Homo sapiens: one gene and its partner. The protein of the gene in region 2 purifies or fractionates together with the protein of the main gene of each other region. This does not show direct contact. Each region holds a gene or a part of one and is shown on either strand. Other genes may lie near its edges.

The links.
Region 1: the proteins of DDB2 (region 2) and COPS7B purify together in Homo sapiens (affinity purification with mass spectrometry; 4 studies listed by BioGRID and IntAct, with this or other methods). This does not show direct contact.

The regions. Positions count from the first base shown.
Region 1 is NC_000002.12:231,796,445-231,803,483, forward strand, and holds part of COPS7B (COP9 signalosome complex subunit 7b), read left to right. Parts: intron 1-2,414; coding exon 2,415-2,520; intron 2,521-4,463; coding exon of another isoform or gene 4,464-4,493; exon of another isoform or gene 4,494-4,657; intron 4,658-4,695; coding exon of another isoform or gene 4,696-4,763; intron 4,764-7,039. UniProt on the Homo sapiens protein: Component of the COP9 signalosome complex (CSN), a complex involved in various cellular and developmental processes.
Region 2 is NC_000011.10:47,231,946-47,238,984, reverse strand, and holds part of DDB2 (DNA damage-binding protein 2), read right to left. Parts: intron 6,172-7,039; coding exon 6,026-6,171; intron 4,413-6,025; coding exon 4,313-4,412; intron 4,229-4,312; coding exon 4,051-4,228; intron 3,716-4,050; coding exon 3,573-3,715; intron 1,149-3,572; coding exon 984-1,148; intron 848-983; coding exon 802-847; intron 186-801; coding exon 136-185; 3' UTR 1-135.

The DNA of each region.
Region 1 (7,039 bases), on a different chromosome or scaffold from region 2:
AGTGGAGCTACATTTGTGATCACAGCTGTGTGATAACAGGAGTCATTTCAGGCCTCCTGGTGCCTTGGTTGTAAAATAGTTCTTTCCTTAAATGCAACTGGGAGCTATTTAAAAGTGGGCTATAAAATGCCCAGGGTTAGCAGGTGGAGCCTATGTGTCCTAGCTGTGTGAGGCTAGTCCTGCCCTTTCCAAACTCACGCTCAAAGTTTGACCAAACTCAGGAAGGCTAGTGTTTGTAAGATTCTTTCTTTGTTTTTATTATTTTTTCTATCCCTGTTGAAGTTAACATGTTTATAAGATTCTTCGGATAAAAGAACTTACGTTCAAAATCAGTAACATATTGGGCTAATGTTTGTAAAACACCGTGAGGGACATGGAAGACAAGGAGTGGGTCATTTTAACTTGGAATACAGACTCATACAAAGAATATCTGATAACTATACTCTGGTATATAAAAAGCATTGGGACATTTGTGTTTTCTCTGTTTTAATGGAATTTGATATTTGTAAGAGCTGTCTCACATTCTACGAGGATTCACTGTGGAGTGATTTAAATTATTTGGGGCTTATAAAGCCAGATGGACTGATTGGAGAAGTTTTAGCTCAGTTTTGAAGGAAGGCCAGGGTTAGAGTATACCTGGAGGTGAGGAGAGTGTGTTCCCAGGCAGGCACGTGGCATGTTGGAAGCCATGAAGCAGACCCGGTGAGCTTTGTACACAGGTTCGGGAGGGAGAGAGAATCTCTGCTCATCCCCGAGAGAAGCATATCCAGAGAGGAGCAGTGCCACTTTGACTCCTTGGGGCCTGATGTCCCCTGAGTTTCCCTCACTTCAGCTACTTTTACACCCCAGGACATGTGTTGCTCACCCCTCACCCCAAGTTCTGTCCCAAATATAGCCCCAAACACCTTCTCTATACAACATCTGCCACAAGTGGAAGTTTTCAATAGCTTACAAAACTTAGAATAAATAAGAAATAAACTTAGAAATACCCCAACACAAAAATGGTCTGGCACACAAAATCTAGTTTCTGAACCTGCCAAAGTTGGCTGTCCTATTCTGTTTTTGAGATGGCTGACACAGCTTTTTATGTCCATAGTCTGGTTTCCTGTTTTTAAGCCCCCAATATGTTTGACATAGAGGTGCCAGACTAACTGGTTACCATGGGATGTTTACTAGTAGAAACTCTTACAACTCATGTTTAGGCACTGGAGGTAGATTGAAACAAAATTCATAGGCTGAGGGCTACCACATATATGGCAAAATGCTCACACTGTTGGATCTTAAGTGGAGGGTATGGGGATATTCATTGTAGTCTTTCAACTTTTTCATTTTTAAAAAAATTAATAGTGGGGAAAATAGGAGGAGGGGTATGGCAATTAGGAAGTAACTTAAACTTCTGAGAAAAGGCGGAATCTTCAAAACAGGATGCTTTTAGGAAATCTTTTTTTGTTTGTTGTTTTTTGAGACAGTTTTGCTCTTGTTGCCCAGGCTGGAGTGCAATAGTGCGATCTCAGCTCACCGCAACCTCTGCCTCCCAGGTTCAAGCGATTCTCCTGCCTCAGCCTCCCTAGTAGCTGGGATTACAGGCGTGTGCCACCAGGCCTGGCTAATTTTGTATTTGTAGTAGAGACGGGGTTTCTCCATGTTGGTCAGGCTGGTCTCGAATTCCCGACCTCAGGTGATCCGCCTGCCTCGGCCTCCCAAGGTGCTGGGATTACAGGCATGAGCCACTGCGCCTGGCCTAGAACATCTTTTTTTTCTGTTGAGAAAAGGATTACTCAGTGCCATCTATAAAATCTATTCTACCTTCTTTTTTTTTTTTTTTTTTTTGCGGCAGAGTTTCGCTCTGTCACCCAGGCTGGAGTGCAATTGCGTGGTCTCAGCTCACTGCAACCTCCGCCTCCCGGGTTCAAGTGATTCTCCTGCCTCAGCCTCCCAAGTAGCTGGGATTACAGGCACCCGCCACCACACCTGGCTAATTTTTGTATTTTTAGTAGAGATGGGGTTTCACTGTGTTGGCCAGGCTGGTCTCGAACTCCTGACCTGGTGATCCACCCACCTCGGCCTCTCAAAGAGCTGGGATTACAGGTGGGAGCCACTGCACCCGGCCTGTCCTACCTTCTTTAATCGTATGTGCTACAAAACCATCTTCCATGAGATACAAAGTTGAAAATTAAAGCTGTATTCTAAGAAACTAGCCCCAGACTACCATATTTGTCTCCTAATGTCCTGCATTATGTATTTAGAAGTGCTTGTCTTTGGGAAGGAGTGAACGGGCAAGAGATGTGGCAGAGGGAGTATTAAAGGAGGTCCCTGTAAGATACTGGGGAGAGCTGTTGGGGAAGAATATTTCTGAGCCTGGAAGAGACTTCCCAGGCCATTCTGCAGCTCAGGGCTGGTTTTCTCCATTGTAGGTGTGATGGCTGTGAAGCAGTTCTACTGGGCATCGAGCAGCAAGTTCTGAGAGCCAACCAGTACAAAGAGAACCACAACCGAACTCAGCAGCAGGTAGAAGCAGAGGTAAGGAAGGAAAGGAACATTTGTTTCTCTCTCCAGGCATACCTGTTTATTCGTTTGCAGTGTTTATGTTTTTGTTTTGCGAATCTTGGTGTAGATGAAACAAGCAGTCACCAACAAGTGGGCCTGGGCTAGGTGCTGGGTTACAGGGATGAGTGTGACACGGCTCCTGCTCTTGGTGTTCTGTCTCTTTTTTCTGATTCCTGGTCAGCATAGGGTGATCAATCAGGCTTGGAGAACAGAGAATGTTGTAGTTTCAGTACACATGTACTTTGCAGCTATAGAGCAAAAGAAAATGAGTTTGGGGATGGATCTTAAAAATGGATAGAAGGATGGTGGTAAGTTACCAGGTGGAGTGGAGGGAGGGGTACAGCTGGGCAGGGGCATGTGGGGCTTCAAGGCCCTGGGAGTGTTCTGCTTCTTAAGTTGCGTGGTGGGCACATAGTTTCATTTTATTCTTTCTCTGTGAACTGTACATATATATTATAAATGTGTAAAATGCATGACATGTTTCATACGGAAAGAAGAAAGGGATAAAATTTGGCAGATGAGCTGCAAGTGAAGTAAAGAGGATGTAAGTGTGGTTTTAGTGACACCTGGTTGTTGAGGAAACTTTTAGCTTCTTGGACAGATGTAGGCCCCAGCCTTTGCGTTATGGGCATTTGTGTACCTGTAACCTGACACATGAAGTGACCTCACTTCACAATTTATTTGGAGCCCTGCACTGATTTTCCTTAGCATTGGAAGTTCTTTTCTAGTGTGAATGGAGTTTGAAGTATTAATGATGCTTAATGAATTTTGAAAATCAGGTGTCTAAGAGTGGCGGAGTGGGACCCGTAATTCCAGCTAAGAAGCATAAGAGATGAGTAGATGGTGCCTTTCAAAGGGGGATTTGTGAAATTTGGAGTGATTCTCTATACTGTTATATGCACTCCTTGAAAATAAAACCTGTGTCCTATTTGTAAGACGAGCGTCTTGTCTCATGCCTAACCCATAGTAGGTACTCAAATGTTGAACTGAATATTTCTGGCACACCATAAAAGTGTGTCAGTGGACTGCTGAACTCTGCTTTTCATGAACTTGAGCTAATTTTTTTGAATACACACACACACCACCCTATATACATATACTCTGTGGATGTTCAATTCATAGACCATGTTTAATCCGACTAGCCAAGGAAGTATGAGGCTGGGTGCAGTGGTTCACACCTGTAATCCCAACACTTTGAGAGACCGAGGAGGAAGTATTGCGTGAGTCCAGGAGTTCGAGACCAGCCTGGGCAAGGAAGTGTTAACTATATTTAACATTAGTCCAAAGCAAAGACAATTAGGAAAATAAGCTTGCTGCTTTTCTAATAAGCTGTGCAACAACCCTCTTGATGATGGTGGCCTTTTCTCTGACTTGGGATTGAGGTCTGAACAAAGTAGGAAGGGCTAACCGCTTTCTCCTTTCTGTTTATTCTTCCCTATAAATCAAACTCTGTACAAAATGAGGTTGGGAGGCTAACCACACTACCTAATCTTTGGTATCAAGGTCATTAACAAAGATGAATGATACTTGTTTTAGAATTTTGAACTGTTCAAGTTTATTTTCATTATAAATAGCATCAGACAAAAGAAAGGCGGGTGTGCACAGAGCTATTGTAGACACTTGGCTAAAGTTTGAGGCACACCGTGTAGTTACACAACAGTGTAGACTCTTTAAATTTTGGTTATTTAAACACAGAGGGTGGGTGTGTGCACGAGCAGAGCCTGGTGCTGCCAGCAGGTGGCGGTAAGGATTTAAGTTTGAGAAAAAGAAATCTGAGCAAAAGGCCAAGGCCACCTCCACCACCAATTAAAACAGTCCATTGACGTAATAATCTTTTAGAAAATCTGAACCAGACCAATATGGTCTGTTCCCTGAGCATGGCCAAAGCTTAGGACCTTGTCATTTTTTCCATTTAGCAAATGCATGATCTGGCTGCTAAGTGTTGAAGGCTGCTTGCCACCTACTTGAGGCACACAGAAGATACTCACCAAATAGCTACTGACTTGAAAGGAAAAGAAATCTACAAAGAATCAGGGTGATTCTGTCGTATTCTGTTTGTATTTATGCCTCTGTTACCCTTGGCCTAACTTTTAAAAGCCAATTTTGTCAACTGATTGGTGATCTTTTCTTTATTTGTCCTTAAATTAGATTGCTTGTTTTCAGAGGGAAAAACGTGATGTCCCCCTCCTGAATCTTATAACAACAGCTTTCTTCTGGTGAGTTGTAGCTTTAAGAGCCCTCCTTCTTAATGAAGTCAGCCCTATCACAGACTGCCGAAGAATATTCTCTCCATTTAGGCTTTTGTGGAAATAACCCATATTAGTTCCTAGTTCCAGCATACCTGGGGGACCATTATGAGCTGTTTCATTATTTCTGAGGAAGCACTGTGGTGGGGAGGTAATACTTAGAGCATTACAAAGCACTTTCACATTTAAATTTGATTTTGGAAAGTATTTTCTTTTTGAGACAGAGTCTCTGTCACCCAGGCTGGAGTGCATGGAGTGCAGTGGTGCAAACACAGCTCGCTGCACCCTCAACCTCCTGGGCTCAAGCAGTCTTTCCACCTCGGCCTCCCAAGTTGCTAGGACTATAGGACTACAGGTGTATGCTACCACACCTGGCTGATTTTTTTTCTTTTCTTTTTTTTTTTTTTTTTAGGGAGAACTGGGTTTTGCTGTATTATTCAGGCTGGTCTTGAGCGCCTAACCTCAAGCTATCCTCCCACCTCTGGCTCCCTCTTTGTTGGGATTACAGGCGTGAGCCACCATGCCCAACCTACTTTTCTTTTTTTCTTTTTTGAGATGGAAATTCACTCTGTTGCCTAGGCTGGAGTGCAGTGGCATGATCTTGGCTCACTACTGCAACCTCCGCCTCCTGGGTTCAAGCAATTCTCATGCTTCAGCCTCCTGAGTAGCTGGGATTACAGGTGCCCGCCACCACGCCCAGCTAATTTTTGTATTTTTAGTAGAGACGGGGTTTCGCAATGTTGGCCAGGTTGTTCTCCACCTCCGGACCTCAAGTGATCCGCCTGCCTCGGTCTCCCAAAGTGCTGAGATTACAGGCCTGAGCCACCGCGCCCGGCCTCATTTTTCTTTATATTTGGATGTGCCTATGTCTGATGTTAGGTGGAATGTTAATTTATAACTATTGCTACATTTACAAAGTAGGCTGTGTTCCAGTCATGGAGGTCGTAAAGTGTAACTGGACAAAGTAAGCTCTGTTTTCCATTATGTAGAAAATCTCCTAGGAGTTAGTGACAATCTTGAGATTTATACAATGCACCAAAAGTATGCTTCCTGGTACCTCTTGGAAAGGGACTCTCCATCACCCAGTTCTCTTTTTCTTTGTAGCACTTTTCCAGTTGTGCACTGTGTTTCCTCTCGTCTGCCTTTGCTTTGCCCCTCAACTGAAGGAAGGTTTCCTGCCCCAGAAAGCTCTTTCTCCTTTTGCCTAAATATTTAAGGTCTCTGATGGAGCTAGGCTGCATTTTTGCTAGCAGTGCAATCTTACTTGAAAATTTCTGAGGTTCATGTTTTGAGGAGCCTGTAAGCCAGGCCACTGGAGGAAGAAAGTCATAAGGAACTCTACCAAATTTAGGTAAAAGAAGACAAGTCTGTGGTGATGATATTTGTTGTCAGTTGAAGGGTGACTGTGGAAGAGGAATTGGAATTCTTAAGAAAGTCTACGAGACCAGAATGGGTTTAATTGGTTGACCTACCTGGGTGGCCAATTTGGAGTCCTAGAAGGAGCTGTCTGCGGTTACAACTGCCCAGCTACTGGAAGAAGCTAGTTGAATTTTAAGATCCCCTTCCACTAGGAGAGTCTGTCAGTGCTTCAGAAGTCTCGTTTGTGAGTTGTGTGTTGTAAATGCAGTGGTAAAGCTGACTTGAGCAAAGTGTCTCTGTAATGGATCCCAGTGTGAGGGCCATGGCCCTGCCCCAGCCCAGGCCAGGCCTTTGTGGAGGATAAAAGGCTCATTTCCTAGGCTTAGAGACACTTGCCCAAGAAGCCCTCTTTTCCTCTGCAGGATGTTTACATTTTGCCTCAAAGTGGTAACGACTGTAGAGGACTTAGATTTGTCAGCAGTCTTATTGGAGGAGTGAGGTGTGTGCATCTGAAACACAAAGGAGATGCAGTGGTGTGGGAGGCCATCGAAGAGGGAGAGGCACTGCCAGGCAAGTACAGATTGAAGGGTGGCAGATCAGTGTGGGCTGCAGCAGTCAGGGCAGTTTGTATGGACCAGGTGCTCAACTCTCCAGGCAGGATCAGAGGGGCAACCTGGGGAGGAGCGGTAACCCCCGGGGTGCATGAACAACAGAAGGGCATAGGGGGAATGACTGCTTCCAAGTGTGGTGTGGGGGACGAGTGTGGCTGAGATGGCTTGAGTGCAGGGCATGTGTTGAGGAGTGGGAAGGAAGGTACCTGATCTTGGTATTTCAGAACTAGAGAAAAAACCAAGTTTTTCCCTGGGCCAAGTCTTATTTCTTTTTAT
Region 2 (7,039 bases):
GGTCCCAGCACCCCTGCTCCAACCCTAACCTTGGATACTTTTGGCCCTTTAACAAATCGCCACCTCTGCTTGCAGGACTTGATCCCATGTGTGGGCTCCAAGGCCTTGTCTGGCCCACACCTTCTTTAGTGTCTCTCACTTCCGTGTCCTGGCTTCCTCCTGGCTCCAGATGAGAATGTGGTAACCTAGGAAGAGTGAGACCAGTCTGACTTACACTTTCTGTTACCAATCTCTCAGAGCCTGGGGCTGGCCCGCAAACCTACAATTTGGTAAAGAAATACTAGGAAGGCCGGGCGCGGTGGCTCAAGTCTGTAATCCCAGCACTTTGGGAGGCTGAGGTGGGCGGATCACGAGGTCAGGAGACCGAGACCATCCTGGCTAACACGGTGAAACCCTGTCTCTACTAAAAATACAAAAAATTAGCTGGGCGTGGTAGCGGGCACCTGTAGTCCTAGCTACTCGAGAGGTTGAGGCAGGAGAATGGCGTGAACCCAGGAGGCGGAGCTTGCATTGAGCCAAGATCACGCCACTGCACTCCAGCCCGGGGGGACAGAGCGAGACTCCGTCTCAAAAAAAAAAAAGAAATACTAGGAAACTGGACAGTAGCCAGGCATTGCATGACCAAGACAAAGCCAGAGGAATGGAGGGCCTTGGCTATAGAGACCACTGTCTCCCAGCCATCTTCTTCGTGGGCCACTGCCCTGGGGTGAATGTGGCAGGGCGGGGCTGAGGCTGGCCCGCACTGAACCTTGGGAAGTAGGATCGGACTTGGCAAGTCAGAGACATTCTCCTCCTACTCACCCATTGCAGAGGCCAGCGTGTCCCCCATGGGATTGAATTCATTAAGCTGCAGAGACAAGAGTGTCAACATGAGGAGAGGGTGAAGGTATTAGCAGAGACACCTGATTTCTGGTCACTTTTGGTCAATAAGGTAGGTTGAATCCCTGCTTCCTCCCATCATTATTTGAGGACCCAAGCCTCACCGAACTGATGCCAGAAGATTCTGGGTCATAGAGCTGACACATCATCTTCCCTGAGTTTCCATCGAACACGTCGATCGTCCTCAATTCATAAGGGGTACAACTTTTGAAATTAGGATCTGGGTATCGGCCCACAACAATGAGGTTGTAGCGAGGATGCCAGGCTGCCTAGGAGATGGAGAGGCCGGCCATGAGGGTAAACACAGAACATGATCAAGGGGGACATCAAAAACAAATATGAACAAAGAGGAACATCAAAAGTATTCTTTGGGCTGAGTGCAGTGGCTCACACCTGTAATCTCAACACTTTGGGAGGCTGAGGCAGGCGGATCACGAGGTCAGGAGATCGAGACCATCCTGGCTAACATGGTGAAACCCCGTCCCTACTAAAAATACCAAAAAAAAAATTAGCTGGGCGTGGTGGTACATGCCTGTAGTCCCAGCTACTTGGGAGGCTGAGGCAGGGGAATCACTTGAACCCGGGAGGCGGAGGTTGCAGTGAGTGAAGATCATGTCACTGCACTCCAGCCTAGGTGACAGAGCAAGACTCTCAAAAAAAAAAAAAAAAAAGTAGTATTTGCCAGTAACAAGCCAACCTAATAATGGAGATAAGTCTTACAGAAAACTACAAGAATGGTTTTAGGTTGTGTGTGCCTCTGCCATTGCACATTTTTAATCCCTAGCTGGCCTCCCTGGCCCTTAGGGCACCTTCAGGCCTTCTCCCTCATTTGCATTTCCTAAGATCATACCAACTGGTAAACGTTTTAACATCAGCCTGACCCAGATACTGACCTAAGAGGCCTACAACAAAGCAGAAAAAGCCTCTGGTGACCAAACCCTAACAGGACTTGAGTTCTGGAGGAGCCCCACTGTCATCCTGTCTCCATCAACACGAATAACTAAGAGCTGAGTGTAAAATTGCTAATGGCTAAAAAAGAGAAGGAAACCCACATTCCCCAGATCACCCCACTAAAAACAAATCTGGCAGTTATTAAAATGGCAGAATTGGATGGGATTTTCCTAAACTTCTCAAGGAAGTTTTGAAGGAAGAAAGACATGGTTAGCAGGAAGGAAGAAATAGTACATGCGAAGGCTTAGAAATAAGTCACAAATCACACACAGGAAGCTGTAATGACTTACGACACCTGGCTAGATACAAACTGGGACATGCAGACAGATGGATTATCGGGAACACTGATGGATTAACAGGAACACCAACTGGGGAAGGATTCTTGACATTATTTATTAAGAGCTTGGATGTGATTGAGGTACGTGGGGGCCACTCAATATTCAATCATCATTTATTGAATACTTACCAGTACTTACCAGGTGCTGGGCATGGGGCCAAGTGCTTTAAGTATACTGACTCATCTTCACAACAACCCTATCAGTTAGAGACTAGTATTCCCTTTTTGCAGATGAGGAAACAGATCCAAAATATAAGTAATTTGCCCAAGGATTCTAACCCGGGGGGTCTGGCTGCTGGAAACTGGCGCTCCCCACCACTATTCTGAACTGACCAGAGAAGTATAGGCATAAAACCTGAAGATCTGAAGAGGATCTGTAGTTTTGGAAAAGAATGCAGAACTAGCAGAGCTCAGTCTGCATGGGGGCTTAGGCAAAAAGGCATCAAAGGACTTGAAAGCTATTAGTGTTGGGGACTAATGATAGAGAAGCTATTAACAAGAGCCTGAGAAAAGGTGGGAAAATAAAAGACTTATTTTTATTATTAGAAGCACTGAAACCTGCAAGACAAACTAAGAAGGCAAAGTTGCCAGGCGCAGTGGCTCATGCCTGTAATCCTAGCACTTTGGGAGGCCAAGGTTGGGGGATGGCTTCAACCTAGGAGTTCAAGACCAGCTTGGGCAACATGGCAAAACCCCATCTCTATAAAAAATAAAAAAATTAGCTGGGTATGGTGGCGCATACCTGTAGTCCAATCTACTTCCGAGGCTAAGGCGGAAGGATTGCTTGAACCCAGGAGGTTGAGGCTGCAGTGAGCTATGTTTGTGCCACTGCACTCCAGCCTGGGTGACAGAGCAAGACCGTTTCAAGAAAAAAAAAAAAAAAAAAAAAAAGGATCAGCCTGGGTAACACAAGAATACCCTGTCTCTACAAAAAAAAAAAAAGTGAGGCAGGAGGATCGCTTGAGCCTGGGAGATCAAGGCTGTAATGAACCATGCTTGCCCCACTGTACTCCCACCTGGGTGACAGAGCGAGACCCTGCCTTAAAAAAAATAATAAAAAAATAAAAAATGAAGGTTTGTGGGTCAACTGTACACAGGTAACTGAAGCTGAGAAGACAGAACAGAGGGTCAGGATCTTAGAAAATTCTCACAGTGAGATCAGAGCTGGGCTGAAAAAACTCAGAAAAATATCTTATCAGCGAGACAGAAAACTCAACCATATGGGATGGCAGAAGTGGGATAAAAGGAAGAGAGAGAGCCAATGGGTAAGAGATGCTCTGTGCTCGGGCCAGGAGCGATCTGGGGTGGCAGGCTTACCACATCAGCCCTTCCCCACTGTGGGCAGACCTGCTCCGGCCTCATGATCACAGCCTCCTTCTGCGAGCTCCTTCCCACCGCCACTCACCTTGATGGGTGTGAGGTGCTGGAAGTGACGGTGAGGGTGCGGGATCAGGCCCAGGGGGCAGTCCCACTGGGAAGCAGAGTAAACTCGGATCTCGCTCTTCTGGTCCGTGGTCAGGAGCCGGGCTCCATCGGGACTGAAACAAGCTGGCAAAGTGAAAAGCCCCTGAGCTGAAGGAACCACAAGCCCTCTGTGGTCCTGGCCTTGCAGGCCTTCTCCTGCAGGGGTACTCTCCCTCCCACTCCTCTCTAGACAGGAGCGGAAAGGAAGAGGTGAATCTGGGCTGTGAACAACAACAAAAAAATTCTGGAAACTCAGCAGCTGATGGGGACAGCCACAGCCACAAAGGTTCCCAGACATCAGCTTGGCAGACGCTATCAGGGGTAAAGGTTTGACGTAGTGGCTTCCACACTGAGGGAAAACCCCAGCAGTGGTCAGACAGGCAGGGTCTGCAGGAGAGATGAGGTCTGGGATATCACACCTGCGTTGACAGGATGCCTGTGCGGCAGCGAGTAGAGGAAGCTGGCTTTCCCTCTAACCTGGCGCAGGTCCCAAATTTTCACTGTTTGATCTACGGAGGCTGTGGCCAGGAACCAATCACAGCATGGGTTCAGGGCCACATGCGTCACTTTCTTTTTGTGCATTCTGAGATTCCAAAGCTGCAGAGAAGAGCTCGGTTCAGGTGGGGACACAGAACCGAGGTGGGGGTGAGGGAGGGAAAGGCAGGACCTCGGAGAACGCACCTCTTTGCCGTCCATGTTCAGCAGGATCACGTTCCCCACGTTGTCTCCTGTGACCACCATTCGGCTACTAGCAGACACATCCAGGCTACAAAACCAGATGCTGGAGGGAGAGACTGTGTTGTAAGATTCTTGGGGACAGAGATAGTCCTATTTACTCACTGTTGCCGCTCCGGTGACTAACCCACAGCGGGCATTCAATAAATATTTGTTGAATGAATGAATAACTGTCTTGCCGTGGATTCCTAGTGAGGAACATTCAGACTGCTCTACCGTCCAGACAGAGGGGATGGGATAATGGGGCTCAGAAATCTGTCTGGTTATGGCTGGGCCCAGGATCCCCAGCTCCTAAAAGTCCCTGAAGCAGACAAAGCTTATACCATAAAGCAAGCCCTGAGGCACGCCTGCCCCCCACACCCCGGGTTCTGAGCAAGCCTCCTTTACTGCTCTCTCCTTTCACTCTTCACCCTTTAGGCCAAAGGAGACACAAGCCAAAGAGGGATTGCCTGGCCCTGTTCCTCAGAGCTGGCTAGAAAAGCACTTCTGCCCCCTTCTGAACACTGGGGGAAAAAACACAACCAGGAGCTCTTCTGGTCCCTCAAACCACTGGACTGGGAGGCTGACTAGGAGGGTGCTTCAGGGATCCTGCTATTCAGCCAGAAGAGCTCAGCTCACAGTTTTTCTCTCAAACTCTCAAATCCATGCTACACTGCCTTTTGCCATCCCCTATGAATATCTTCAAGCAGGAAGATTTCTTGCGGAAGAGTAGCCTGGAGCCTTGTCTATCCAATTGCCTGCTGATTTGCGTGCGCATGCACTCCTCATCCCTGCGGGACAGCCCAGGATCCAATCCAATGCTAGTTACACCCCAGCACCCTCACTTAATTCCTCAGGGAGCAGTCAGAGTCACGGCTCTAGCTGGAAATCAAAGTGACGAGTATTCTGTAATTTTTTTTTTTTTTTTTTGAGATAGATTTTCGCTCTTGTTGCCCAGGATGGAGTGCAATGGCGCCATCTCGGCTCACTGCAACCTCTGCCTCCTGGGTTCAAGCGATTCTCTTGCTTCAGCCTCCCAAGTAGCTGGGAATTACAGGGGCCTACCACCACGCCCAGCTAATTTTTTGTATTGTTAGTAGAGATGGGGGTTTCACCATGTTGGCCAGGCTGGTCTCGAACTCCTGACCTCAGGTGATCCACCCACCTTGGCCTCCCAAAGTGCTGGGATTTCAAGCATGAGCCACTGCACCCGGCCGCATTCTGTAATTTCTCCAGCCACTTTCTCTTGGGAAGTCCAGAGCACTTTATGGAAAAGATTCCATCCATATAAGCTTCCACCCAGGAACAGGTCAGGTCATTACACCACAGTGAGTGCAGGGCATTCAGTCTCAAGTTCTGAGCTGTTGCTCCATTCTCTAGGTGGCTTTCTGGGTCCACGCCATGCTGGCTTATCTAGTGAGGGTCAAGGTCCAGTCTAATACAGGTATGACTTACAGAAGAGCTGAGGCTCCAGAACACCTTCCCAAAGCAGTAACCCACCTGGACCAAAGTGAGGGCAGCCAAGGAGCAGTTTGAGAAAGAGAAAGAAGGGCGGAAAGTGGCTGACATCTTTCCTTTCTTCCCTGGGCCAGGTTGGGTTAAGGAAATGGGATCTGGATGCTCTTGCCGGAACTACACCTAAGCTTAGAAGCCCTTTCCCCTGCTAGTTAAACTACTCACTTGATGGTGTCTGAGCTGGCAAAAACTCGTAGAATGTTGCCTTTAAAGTCTTGCAGCCTAGTTGTTCCCTCCATTGAGGAGGCGTAAAACTGGTTGGTATTGAGAGGGTTAAACTTCAGCCCAGTGATGCTCCCTCCAGCTCCAATCTAACACGAGGAAGGAAAAAGCCAGTGAGTGATGATGGGCCTGGCCGTGAGGAACCAGGCCTGGGCACACATGCTGCGCCGTCACAGAAGCACCCCTCGAGCAGCGCTTGGGGCCAGGTCAGCTTAGACACTAGGACGCTCTCTACAGGGCCTTCACTTCTTTTTCTTTTCCTTTGAAATAGGGTCTTTCTCTGTCACTTAGGCTGAAGTGCAGTGGCACAAACACGGCTCACTGCAGCCTCAATCTCCTGGGCTCAAGCGATCCTCCCACCTCAGCCTCCCAAGTGCGTGCCACCATGCCCAGCTAATTTTTCTATTTTTTTTTTTTAAGATGGGGTTTTGTCACGTTGCCCAAGCTGGTCTTGAACTCCTAAGCTCAAGCGATCCCCCTGCCACGGCTTCCCAAAGTGCTAAGATTACAGGCATGAGCCGCTTTGTCTGGCCCCTTCATTTCTTTCTTTTTTTTATTTTTATTTTTATTTTTATGTTTTTGAGATGGAGTCCTGCTCTGTCACGACCTCGGCTCACTGCAACCTCTGCCTTCCAGGTTCAAGCGATTCTCCTGCCTCAGCCTCCCAAGCAGCTGGGATTACAGGTGCCCACCACCACGCATGGCTAAATTGTATATTTTTAGTAGAGACAGGGTTTCACCATGTTGGCCAGGCTGGTCTGGAACTCCTGCCCTCAGGTAATCCGCCACCCTTGGCCTCCCAAAGTGCTGGGATTACAGGCGTGAGCCACCGTGCCCCGCCTCCCTTCATTTCTTAAGGCTTTATTTTTACTTTTTTTTTTAATTAACATATAGCAAATTTGGGATATAAAGTTCTCTGAATTTTAACATATGTATAGACTTAAATAACCACCACCC